Regions from separate parts of the Homo sapiens genome. Here region 1 is linked to region 2. The links come from fine-mapping of genetic effects on gene expression. A gene starts in region 2. The other region holds a variant in brackets. All regions are shown on one strand. Distances are from middle to middle. Region 1 has its middle 40 kb from the start of LINC02946. Region 2 holds the start of MRPS9 (mitochondrial ribosomal protein S9).

Region 1 (5,380 bases), 530 kb after region 2:
TGGGCACCTGTAGTCCCAGCTAGTCAGAAGGCTGAGGCAGGAGAATCGCTTGAACCCAGGAGGCGGAGATTGCAGTGAGCCAAGATCGCACCATTGCACTTCAGCCTGGGTGACAGAGCGAGACTCCATCTCAAAAAAAAAAAAAAAACAGCATAAGCATGATTCATTTAACTAAACATTCCACACAGTATCCATCCAAACTCAGAATGTGTGTTGTGTTTAAACATTTTAAGTGTTTAAACATTTAGTTATAAGTCAGCTGCGTTTGGGGCTTCTTCCTTTCTCATTGCCCCCTGTGTCTGTAGTTTCTCAGTAAGAAGTGAGACCCTGTGCATTCAATACCTGTAGACAAGAACCTGCCAATTCTGATGCCAGAGACTCAGGCAAAACCATTAGGGAGCGTCTGGAATGTTTTTAAAGCACTGCGTCCCCTCCCAGGGAGAGTTAAATGCTATCATCGGGTCAGTGCTGGACACCGGAGAGCACACAGCTATGCTCTCTCGTTGAGGCACTCTCATCCATATGCATTCTCTCACCTTAGAATAAATGACACCCCTGCAGAATAGGTCTTCGCCAGACTGTTTACAGAGCAGCGGACACGGGAAGCCCATGAATACGGAGGCAGCATCGCAGTGAAAGACGGTGGGGTGCGGTGTGCAAGGAGAGCCTTTGAGGCAGTCAGGAAAACACCAGGGTGTGAGGGGTGTCGTTACGGTTTGCAGATGACAAAGGTGGCAAGGGAATCTAAAAACCTCCAAGCAAGGGCGAAACAACCATTTGCAGAGAAGTCTTTGAGCTCTAAATGCCTCGCTGCCACCTCATACTCTCACGGAATTGATTTCCGCCCCTTGGAGAAACTATTTGCTGTGACCTACTTTTTCACATGAAAGACCTCACTAAAGTGTTCTTTTCTCTTCACTGAAGGTTTGAAAAAAAAAATTCTTTTTCTAACTCTTACACATCCATGCTATGGGTGAGGACGCCTTAGCTAAGAATGCCCTACCCAGCGCTGTCCCGTAGGACTTTCTGTGACGATGGAAATGTTCACTATCTGTGCTGTCCGGTGTGACAGCCATGGCCACATGTGGCCACCAGGCACTTGAGACACGGCTGCTAGCATGATGGAGGAACTGAATTTGAAATTTTATTTAATTTTAATTAAACTTAAATGTAGCCATATATACTAGGGTCTACAGACCAGGCCTTCGCATTCCCCTATCAAAAGAGTTCCTGGTCATGTTGTTAAAGTGAAAAAAGAAAGGCAAATTGTAGTGTTATATATTTAGTATAAATATATACACCCACCCCAAACAAAACAATATATTACATTTGTGCATAAAAATGCTTTTAAATGCACAGAAAAATGGCTGAAATTATACCCAACAGACCAATATAAAAAAGGAGAACAATTTACAAGTGTTTTCTTGTAAGATATATCTTGGGTTTTATTTTTTTTTTCTTGTGGTCCAGTTATCGTGACAAATCCACCTGGATCTAATATCTAAGACCACAGAAGCTTGAGAACAGGCAGACCAGCTGTAAGACTTTTTTTTCTTTTCTTTTTCTTTTTTCTTTCTTTCTTTCTTTTTTTTTTTTTTTTTTTTTTTGAGTTGGAGTCTCACTCTGTTGCCCAGGCTGGATTGTAGTGGTGCGATCTGAGCTTACTGCAACCTCTGCCTCCCAGGTTCAAGCAATCCTCCTGCCTCAGTCTCCTGAGTAGCTGCAATTATAGGCACACACCACCACCCCTGGCCAATTTTTGTAATTTTGGTAGAGATAGAGTTTCACCATGTTGGTCAGGCTGGTCTTGAACTCCTGGCCTCAGGTGATCCAACTGCTTAGGCCTCTCAAAGTGCTGGGATTACAGGAATGAACCACCATGCTTTGTCATAAGACATTCTTTTTAAAGAACCCAGAGATCCTCCACAGCAGGTTGTGGGACAAGCCAAAATGCACACATGCATCCATGTGCACCAAGTCGCGTGGAATATGCTGTTCTCAACCTCAACTGTGCATCAGAATTGCCTTTTCAAAATATCCAGAGGCTTTGCATCCCACCCCAAAGATTCTATTTCAATTTATACAGAATGGTCCCAGGGCAATGGTATTTTTGAAAGGCTGCCGGGGTGATTCTATTGTATAGCCAGGGCTGAGAATGCCTGAGCTGGAAGCAGCACATAGAGGAATACCCAGCAACAGGGAGCCGCAGAGCTGGGAACGGCCGAGTAGGAAGATGCCTCAGCCCGTCAGCCACTGTGAGTGAGGAGCAGGATGCAGAAGGACCTACTTGTCTTGGCCTCATGGAGAGAAACATGGCATCTGAACCATGGAGAGCCCCAGGGTTTCATCCTAGTCTCTGGGTACCCTCGCTTCTTAGGTAATCTCTCATCTCCTGTGGCTTTAAATTATGAATGCCATCTCCATGCAGTAATTGAAAATCCTCAGCCAGACTGCGATTTCCAACTTCCTACATGCCATCCCTACCTGGATGTCTAGCCAGCCTCAGCCATCACACAGCCACACTTGCATGACTCCTCCATCCCGAGATCCCCTCTCTCAGACAATAGCCCCGCCGTTCTGTAAC[T/C]GCCCCCTCCGGAAGGTGTGCAGAGCACACTGAGCCCTCTCTTTCCCTCACACCTCACATCGATTTTATCCTCAGGTCCTGCTGGCTCTAATGTTGAAATATATTGTGACCAACCCCTTCTTACCAACTCCATCCCAGCATGCCGGCCCACACTGCCAACATCCTCTGAACATTGTACCAACCCCCAAATGCATCTCCAGTGCTCCTTCTCTCTTCCTCCTTGCAGCAGAGGCCACAAACAGCAGCCGGAAGAAACTTGTTAACTCAGCCCTGCGGCTCCATAGGTGAGCATGCTCACCCTCCAGGGGCTTCCCATCCCCTCAGAGCAACACCTGGTGACACGCTGCGGTGCACAGGCTCCGACACCACCCGGTGTCGCTCCCTTCCAGATCCACCGCCTTCTACTCCATGCCTTTCCCACTGAGTCCCATCACAGGGTCTCCCTGTTGTTCTTGAATATTCTCTCCCCCAGAGCCTCTGCACCAGATTGCACACCCCTCCATCACCAAATTCACCAAGATCTCTGCTCAAATCCCACCTCTTGGAGTGGGGTTTGGGGGGCTTTCCTGGCCCTTCAATCTCTATCAAGAATACTCTCCCTCCCCTACCAGCTTTCCTCTGCGGCCTCCTACCTGGCCTTATTTTTCTACCCATCACTTATGGCTACCTAAAATTACTGCTTGTTTTTGTTTCTCTGCCTCCTCCCCTGTCCTCCCCTGGAATCTAAGTCCCTGCAGGACAGAAGGTGCCTTGCAGCTGCACTGCTGGCTCCTGGAACAGGGTTGGCATGACCGCGGCCAGGCAGGTGCTCCATGTGTGCTGACTGAGTCTTCATTAAAAGCTGCACAACAAACACAATGAAGTGTTTGTTAATTTAACTTTTTAAAATTATGGTAAAATAGATGTAATATGCAATTTCTATTTTTGACATTTTCAAGAATACAGTTCGGTGGCATTGAGTACATTCACTTTGCTGTGCATCTATCACCACCATCCACCTACAGGACATTTTTGTCATCCCAAGCTCTGCACCCATTAAATGCTAACTCCCCTTCTTCCTCCTCCCAGCCCGACACCCACCCCCCACCATTCTACTTTCTGTCTCTGTGAATCTGACTACTCTAGGGATGTTAGGGACGTCATACAAGTAGAATCATGCAGTATTTTTCCTTTTGTGATGGCTTATTTCACTCAGCGTAATGTCCTCAAGATTAATCCATATTGTAGCATGTGTCAGGGCTTCCCTCCTCCTCAAGGCTGAATAATATTCCACTGCATGTCTAGACCACATTCTGTTCTCCCATTCAACTGTCAATGGACATTCGAATTGTTCTCATTCAACTTGCAGCCACAGTGCTTGCAAAATATGAAGTACGAACAAAAGGATACAGGGCGATCCAGTGCGATCCAGTGTCACCAAGAGCCCCAGTTTTCCAGGAAGCCAGCAAAGCAGGACATTCCAAGGGTCCCTGTGGAGGCCTTGGGGCAGCAGGGTCAGAACTGAGAGGCCTGGATGTGTGGCAGGCACGGAATGACCGATTTCATCAGTAGCATTACACTGAGTAATCACCAACCACCAACTCCTTCAATTACTACCACAACGCGGCTGAGAAGAGGAAGATCTGAAGAGGAAGAGAAACGTGTGGTCTTCTTCTGCCCTGGTTTGAGGCTGAGGTGTCCCTGGTAGCCCTGAGGGGCCTCCTGGCTGTCCTTGGCAGGTGTGGCTGTCCTCACTGGCCACTGGCTTTCTCCTTACACCTACCCAATGCCCCCCATGAGGCTGACTCCCCCTTCTCACCTTTCCCTCTCCCCACTCACCTGCCAGCCCTTCCCATTAGGACCCCAGAGCCTATATGAAGGAGCAAACGGGCTCACTGTTTTATTTCTTTAAAACTTAAGACCCCATGAAACAAAGCAAGGTCTGGTCATATTGGGTTGTGTCACAGTTTGAAAAAGGCAAGGTCATGTCTGCAAGAATGACTCTGCTGCTAGGAGGGCAAGAAGGCTGGGATGGCCAGGCTAGAGATGTGTGGTGGGAATTTGGGGAAGAGAGGTTGGTTAAGGAAGGGAGAACCAATGGTGAAAGGACTGGAAAGAAGACACACAGGGAAAGGTGGTGTTCTCTACCGAGGGGAGGCCTGTCTTGGGTAGGGCTTAGGAGTGAAGGAAGGGGGATGTCTCATTCAGCCTCCATTCTGAATACCCTCTAAGTTATCTCAATAGGACACGTGGCTCCTCAAAGTGAGGTCTATGGGTAGGGCTGGTCTCTGACTGTCTGTTACCAGCCCTCAATGAGAAAAGCACAGAAATGAGAGTCAAGTGAGTAGAAACTTGTGCCTTTGGCGTGGCTGCAGCAGCCACTAGCTGCAATCAGTGGCCTTGGCTTGTGGGTGGGTCTGAGACCAGGGCAGGTGCTGTTCAGCATGTGCTGAGATGCAGGCAGTATGAGTCACGTGCTGTCAGGGACTGTTGGACCTTCAGGGGTCTGGGAGAGGTGGAGGACACTGGTTTTCACTACAGCCGGTTTGAGGAGGTGTGCCCTGAGCCATGCTCCATGACCCCGCACACTGGCATCTCCTCCAGAGCCTGTTCCCAACCTGGGCACCAGGTGATGTCATTGGCCTGCATTTCGGGGCATATGTGCACAAAAGAGACCTCTGTCCACCCTAGACTCACATTCTACCCAATGGGGGGAGCCTGGGACCAAGGCGATCTGAGGAAACAGCAAAGTCCCTCCTCCAATTTCCTCTTGCTTGAGTGTTCTCTCTGAGTAGAATGGGGGGAGGTGGGGTGGAA
Region 2 (5,380 bases):
TAAATAATCTCACAATGTGTAGGAACTGCTGTTTAAAGACATCTATTTTAATGAGCTATAAAGTCTTGGTTCTCTGCTGCAAGCGGTGGCTCACGTCTGTAATCCTAGCACTTTGGGAGACCAAGGCGGGCAGATCACCTGAGGTCAGGAGTTCAAGACCAGCCTGGCCAACACGGCGAAACCCTGTCTCTACTAAAAACACAAAAATTAGCTGGGCATGGTGGTGGGCACCTATAATCCCAGCTACTCGGGAGGCTGAGGCAGGAGAATCGCTTGAACCCGGGAGGCAGAAGGTGCAGTGAGCCGAGATCACATCACTGCACTGCAGCCTGGACGACAAGAGCGAACTTCCATCTCAAAATAAATAAAATAAATAAATAAATAAAGTCTTGATTCCCAAATGCTAGTTTATCCATCCGTTGACAAAAAGAGTCGAACTCTGTAAAATATTTTGAAGAGATTTATTCTGAGACAAATATGAGTGATCATGGCCCATGACACAGTCCTCAGCAGGTCCTGAGAATTTGTGCCCAAGGTGGTCAGGGCGCAACTTGATTTTATACATTTTAGGGAGGCATGAGACATCAATCAAACACATTTAAGAAATACATTGGTTTGGTCCAGAAAGACCTGGGACTGATAGAAAGGGAATGTTCAGTTTAAGATAAAGATTGTGGAGACCAAAGTTCTCTGTAAGTCTTACAGTGGCTGCCCTTAGAGACAATGGATGACAAATGTTTCCTATTCAGATCTTAGTTAATCTCTTTAGGATTGGGAGGGTCTGGAAGAAAAAGATCTAGCTATGTTAATACAGATTCTTTACAGATGCATATCCCACCCCTCCAAGGACAGCTTTGCAGGGCCATTTCAAGATATGGCAAAGAAACATGTTTTGGGGTAAAATATTTTGATTTTCTTCCTTGTCTTGTAATGTTATGCCAGAGTCAGGTTGGAAAGTAAGTCACCATATATAGGGTTAAGTAAAACCCATCTAATAAGAATTTATGATTTGTAGGGCATGACTCCCCAAATCCTGTAGATAGGAATCTTGGGCAAGATAAAAAAATCAGAGTTTAGTCCTCCGACCTCTGCCAATTTCTCAAGATATCTTTTGCTAGTCTAAAAGCTAATAACAAAAAGAACAACAGGATGAGCATTTTATACAAGTAAATGTATTCCATTTAAAAGATTTTTCTTTATTGTGAAATTCTGCCATTCTACCTTTTTAATGCTAAAAAGTTCTGTTTCGTGAAATGATGGTGATAGTAGACGGCATTTATTTGCTTGACAACTTTGTATGATCTCAGATTTTCTGTGTGTTTTACTTTTACTGACCCTTCAAATCTAAGTGTGTGTAAACCCTTTTAAAGTGCGTTACTACATCATTTAGTATGTGTTTCGTAGAAAGCAACCTGGGAGTTAACTGCCAGGAGCACGCAAGTTTCAGAAAGCAAGACATACTCATCTCTATTCAACAATTAATCAGTTCTGATTGGGTTTCAAGTAAGGCTTAGTACCAACGCTTAGGGAGGGGCGTGCAAAAACGAGAAAGGTAGTGTTTGACCTTACCGGTTTAAGGTTTATCCTGTGCATTATACAGTTAAGAAACAACGCAGGAGAGTGCCAGGGAACCGAGAGGGGCTTGACAGTTGCTGCAGGAGAGTCTTGACTTGGAACCAGACGAACGTGGAAAGTTAGAGGAGGGGAAAACCCCTACTAGGATAAGGCAGACAGGAATCAAGGCTTGGAGCGCATCTGGGGCCCCGGCCGCCCTGCCCAGGTGGAGGAAGAGCCGGCTCGAGGTGCAGCAAGGGGGCTGGGAAGGAAGGGCTGGCTAAAGCGCCACGTGGATGTGAGTGCCAAAGAGACTAGGAGAGCGTGGAAGTGAGTCCCGAAGAGACTGAGTTCAGGACGTGAAGAGAAAGAGGCCGAGAAAAACGACCCACCAGCGATCCTTCTTGAGGTCGACACCGAGCAGGGGTGGAGTCGGATACGCCCCGCGGACACCATGCACCCAATCAGCGACGAGCTGTCGCGGATCGCGGGACACGCCCCCTGATCCAAAGGCCCGAGAAGCTCTTGCACAGGACAGCCTCTGGAACCCCGCGCCATTAGCGCCTGCGCCGTCTCTAGGCCCCGCCCCCTCACCCCTCCGGTCCTGGAGCTCCCACAGCTAACATGGCGGCGCCCTGTGTGTCCTACGGCGGAGCAGTTTCGTACCGGCTTCTTCTCTGGGGTAGGGGTAGCCTCGCCCGGAAGCAAGGCCTCTGGAAAACCGCGGCCCCTGAGTTGCAAACAAATGTCAGATCCCAGGTAAGGCCTGGGAAGACTGGAAGCGGCTTACCTCTGCCGCGCGAGGATGTGGAGCCAGCGCGGACACCTTCCCCCAGCGTCTCGCGTGCCTTCAGGCAGGGACTCTAGGATCTTAGGTATTTAGTGGAGGTCTGAGGTTGGGGGGGAGGAGGTGGGTATTGGCGTGCAGTAGCCGCTCTAGAGGTTGTTACTTGTTTTTTTGCGGGGTGCAGCGAGGGGAACTTACCTGAAGGTAGAAGTGGAGCGACCTCCTCCTTCATTTGGCTGCTGAGCTAAGTAAGGGTCGGTGCCTAGGTCTGTGTTGGGTCCAGTCCTACCCTGCCCTGCTGTCTAGGGAGGAGGAGGGCCGCGCCAGAGAAGAATGATGGGAATTGGATTCCTGCAGGTGCCTGGAAGACAATGGAGAAAGTCACGTTGTGTAGAGGACAGTGACTTTTTGAAAGTGCCTTCAATATGCGCAATTTCTGGCTTCTTAATTTTCCCGAATCCCCCTCTATGGAAAGATGCAGGCCAGAACTTGTACGTTTCGTTTAATCCAGGGAGAAGTGGGGAGTCAACAGCTGGATGGCTGATGATGCCAGTTTACTGACATGCGATCTCAGAGCAGGAAAAAGATTTGAGAGGGAAGAAACGAGTTTAGTATGGGATTATGTTTTTAGGCATCTGGGATTTCCAGTAGGTCTACGGATAGTCAAGTGTATAGCTCAGGAGGAGAACTGATTTCGAAATGCCCTGTTACCTTGTAAATGGTAACTGAGGCCTTGTAAACAAATTAAATTACCTAGGGAGAGTGTACTGAGGAGTAGGCAGAGGGACAGGGCCCTGAAGGACAAATAAGAAATAAGAGGCCTCAAGAGATTGAGAATGAGGGACCAAAGAAGCAGGAGAGAAACCAGCCAGTGTGGTGTCATGGAAAACAGGTGAATGTTTCAAGGAGGGAGAGTGATAACAAGTACCAATTATTGCAGGAAAGTCAAATACCATACTTTAAAAACTATATTTAAAAAAAAAAACATCTTTTTGTATGTTCTTTCCTTTATATTTTAATCTAGATCAACCAGTCCATTCTATCTATTCATGTGGACATTTGTTTTTTTTTTTTTTCTTACTGGAAAATGTGCTAGAAATTTTTATTTTTTCATGCATCTCTTTGAGTATATCTTTGCTACATACGCATGATTATGAGAGGGACTATATCATACAGAGTATTTTTATTGTTGACATTTAATGTATGTATTGGGGGATGGCTAACTTTCTGTCCCTCCTGGTATCTATTCTTCTATGTTTTTTCCATGTTCTTATAATCATGCATAAACATACATGCACAGGTGTACTTTACAAAAAATGGTACCATATTTGATTGCATTTTACTTTCTGCTTTTCTCTTGTACATATGCAGTATATTGTAAAGTAGAAATCCTTCAGGGTCCCCTATTATGTTTTTAAAAGCATTTTTAACTGCTGCATACTATTCCATGATAAGAATATATCAAAGTTAATGTAACAATTGATGGACATTTGCTTTGTTTCTACTTTCTTTGCACTAATAAAGTTTCAGTAAACATCTGGTCTAGTTCTTAAGTACTGGTTTAGTAAAATGGATGAAGAATGATTTCTCCTGTTACTTTAATTTTCATCTCCTTGACCATTCTTGAAACAACCTCTTTCCCCCATATGGCAAATGTTTACTGAGCACTTTACCTGAGCCAGGCACTGTGAAGTAAACAATTTAAAGTCAAACAATTACAAGATAGTATCCACCCTTAGCACTCTTAAGGGATGGTCCTGAAATGGCTGAATCCCCAGATTCCTGAATACTACTACAGCATATATTTTACCACATTAAGTACAGCTCAGATATAACTGAAACACTTAGCTGACCCCCCTTTAGATTCTTATGATTGCATACATATACCTAAAGACATTGATAAAGCTTTTTTTTTTATCGTGGTGCAGAGCTTATCTGTCTTAAACATTAACATTTTTTCACTTCTGCCTCCAACATTAATAGATAGATTTCTCTTGGTAGCCCATGTTTTATAAAATAATAAAAATTTTAATCACTTAATGAGTGACAAAACACTATACCTGGTCTTTTGTTTGTTCCACTTTTAATTTCCTTAATTACAAAATCTCTTCAGAGGTTACAGAAAACTTGAAGGGTGTGGGAGAATAGAATAATAATAAAGTGCATTTCATGCAGAGTATTTTTGCATTTTGTTTATATATGTAAATGTATACTAGGTGGTGATATAAACAGTAAATATTACAATGGGTCACAGTTTAACAAGTTTGAGAAACACTGTTACAATAAGGAAAAAGAAGCGAGTTTTGTTAAGCTATTCCTAGGTTCTCAGTTGAGACCTTCACTAGCAGACTACCTCTTGCATAGCAATCTTGTGGTATGCATGTTTTGTATTAATGCCTCAATACAATTGCAAATGTCTGAGTGTCCCAAATTTGGGGCAGAAGAGGCAGTCTTATGAATGGCCAAACTTTTCAGATTGTATATCCATGAATATCAGGGATCTATGGTGTACTGTGATATTTACAGAGGTAAATACAGAAGAGCACAGAAGTAATATGCCTGAGTCAGACTAGAGTTGTTGACCAGGTAGAGGATTGTCATGGGCAGCTTCCCAGAGGAGGCAAAGGAAAATAGCGTCTTTAGCAGCAAATAGGAGTTATATGAAAACAGAAAGCTATTCTATTCAAGGAAGATATAATAGGTGCATAAGGGTATAGAGATGTACTGAGTAATAGTGGGCTTTGTCAGCAACAATTGGTTATAGCATAGGGTTTTGGTGAGAGAATGGTGCAGAGACAGGTCTGGAAAGTTTGGCAGGAATCAGTATGATCTGTTTTGCTATGCTAAGGTAGCTGAATTTTTTACCTCTCACAAATGAAAATAGTGTTAGCATTATTATGAGCAGTTGACAGTTTCCTTCCATGCTGTACTACAAAGGTTACCCATGAATTCATAAATCCTCTATCAATATAGCTAATATAGGAATGCTAATTTGGTTTTCTATAATATTTGTGATTTTTATAATAAGGAAAAACAAAA

What was found. PIP is the estimated chance that this variant, and not a neighbour inherited with it, causes the effect.
Region 1: its variant is the best candidate, but not a certain one, in a credible set for the expression of MRPS9 in ovary (GTEx, PIP 0.84).

What each region holds. Positions count from the first base shown.
Region 1 is chr2:105,567,591-105,572,970 of GRCh38, forward strand. No RefSeq gene overlaps it. Among named protein-coding and RNA genes, the nearest start is that of LINC02946, 40 kb to the right of the region's middle. The variant T/C (reference allele first, on the strand shown) is at 2,585.
Region 2 is chr2:105,035,915-105,041,294 of GRCh38, forward strand. It overlaps MRPS9 (mitochondrial ribosomal protein S9), which reads left to right and starts at 2,155. Exons shown (of 11, transcript NM_182640.3): 1 at 2,155-2,313. The coding sequence starts at 2,179. MRPS9-AS2 (MRPS9 antisense RNA 2) reads right to left here and starts at 2,582. Exons shown (of 3, transcript NR_110603.1): 1 at 2,540-2,582. RefSeq lists enhancers at 1,562-1,771, 1,792-1,841, 1,892-1,941, 2,112-2,441, 2,195-3,137.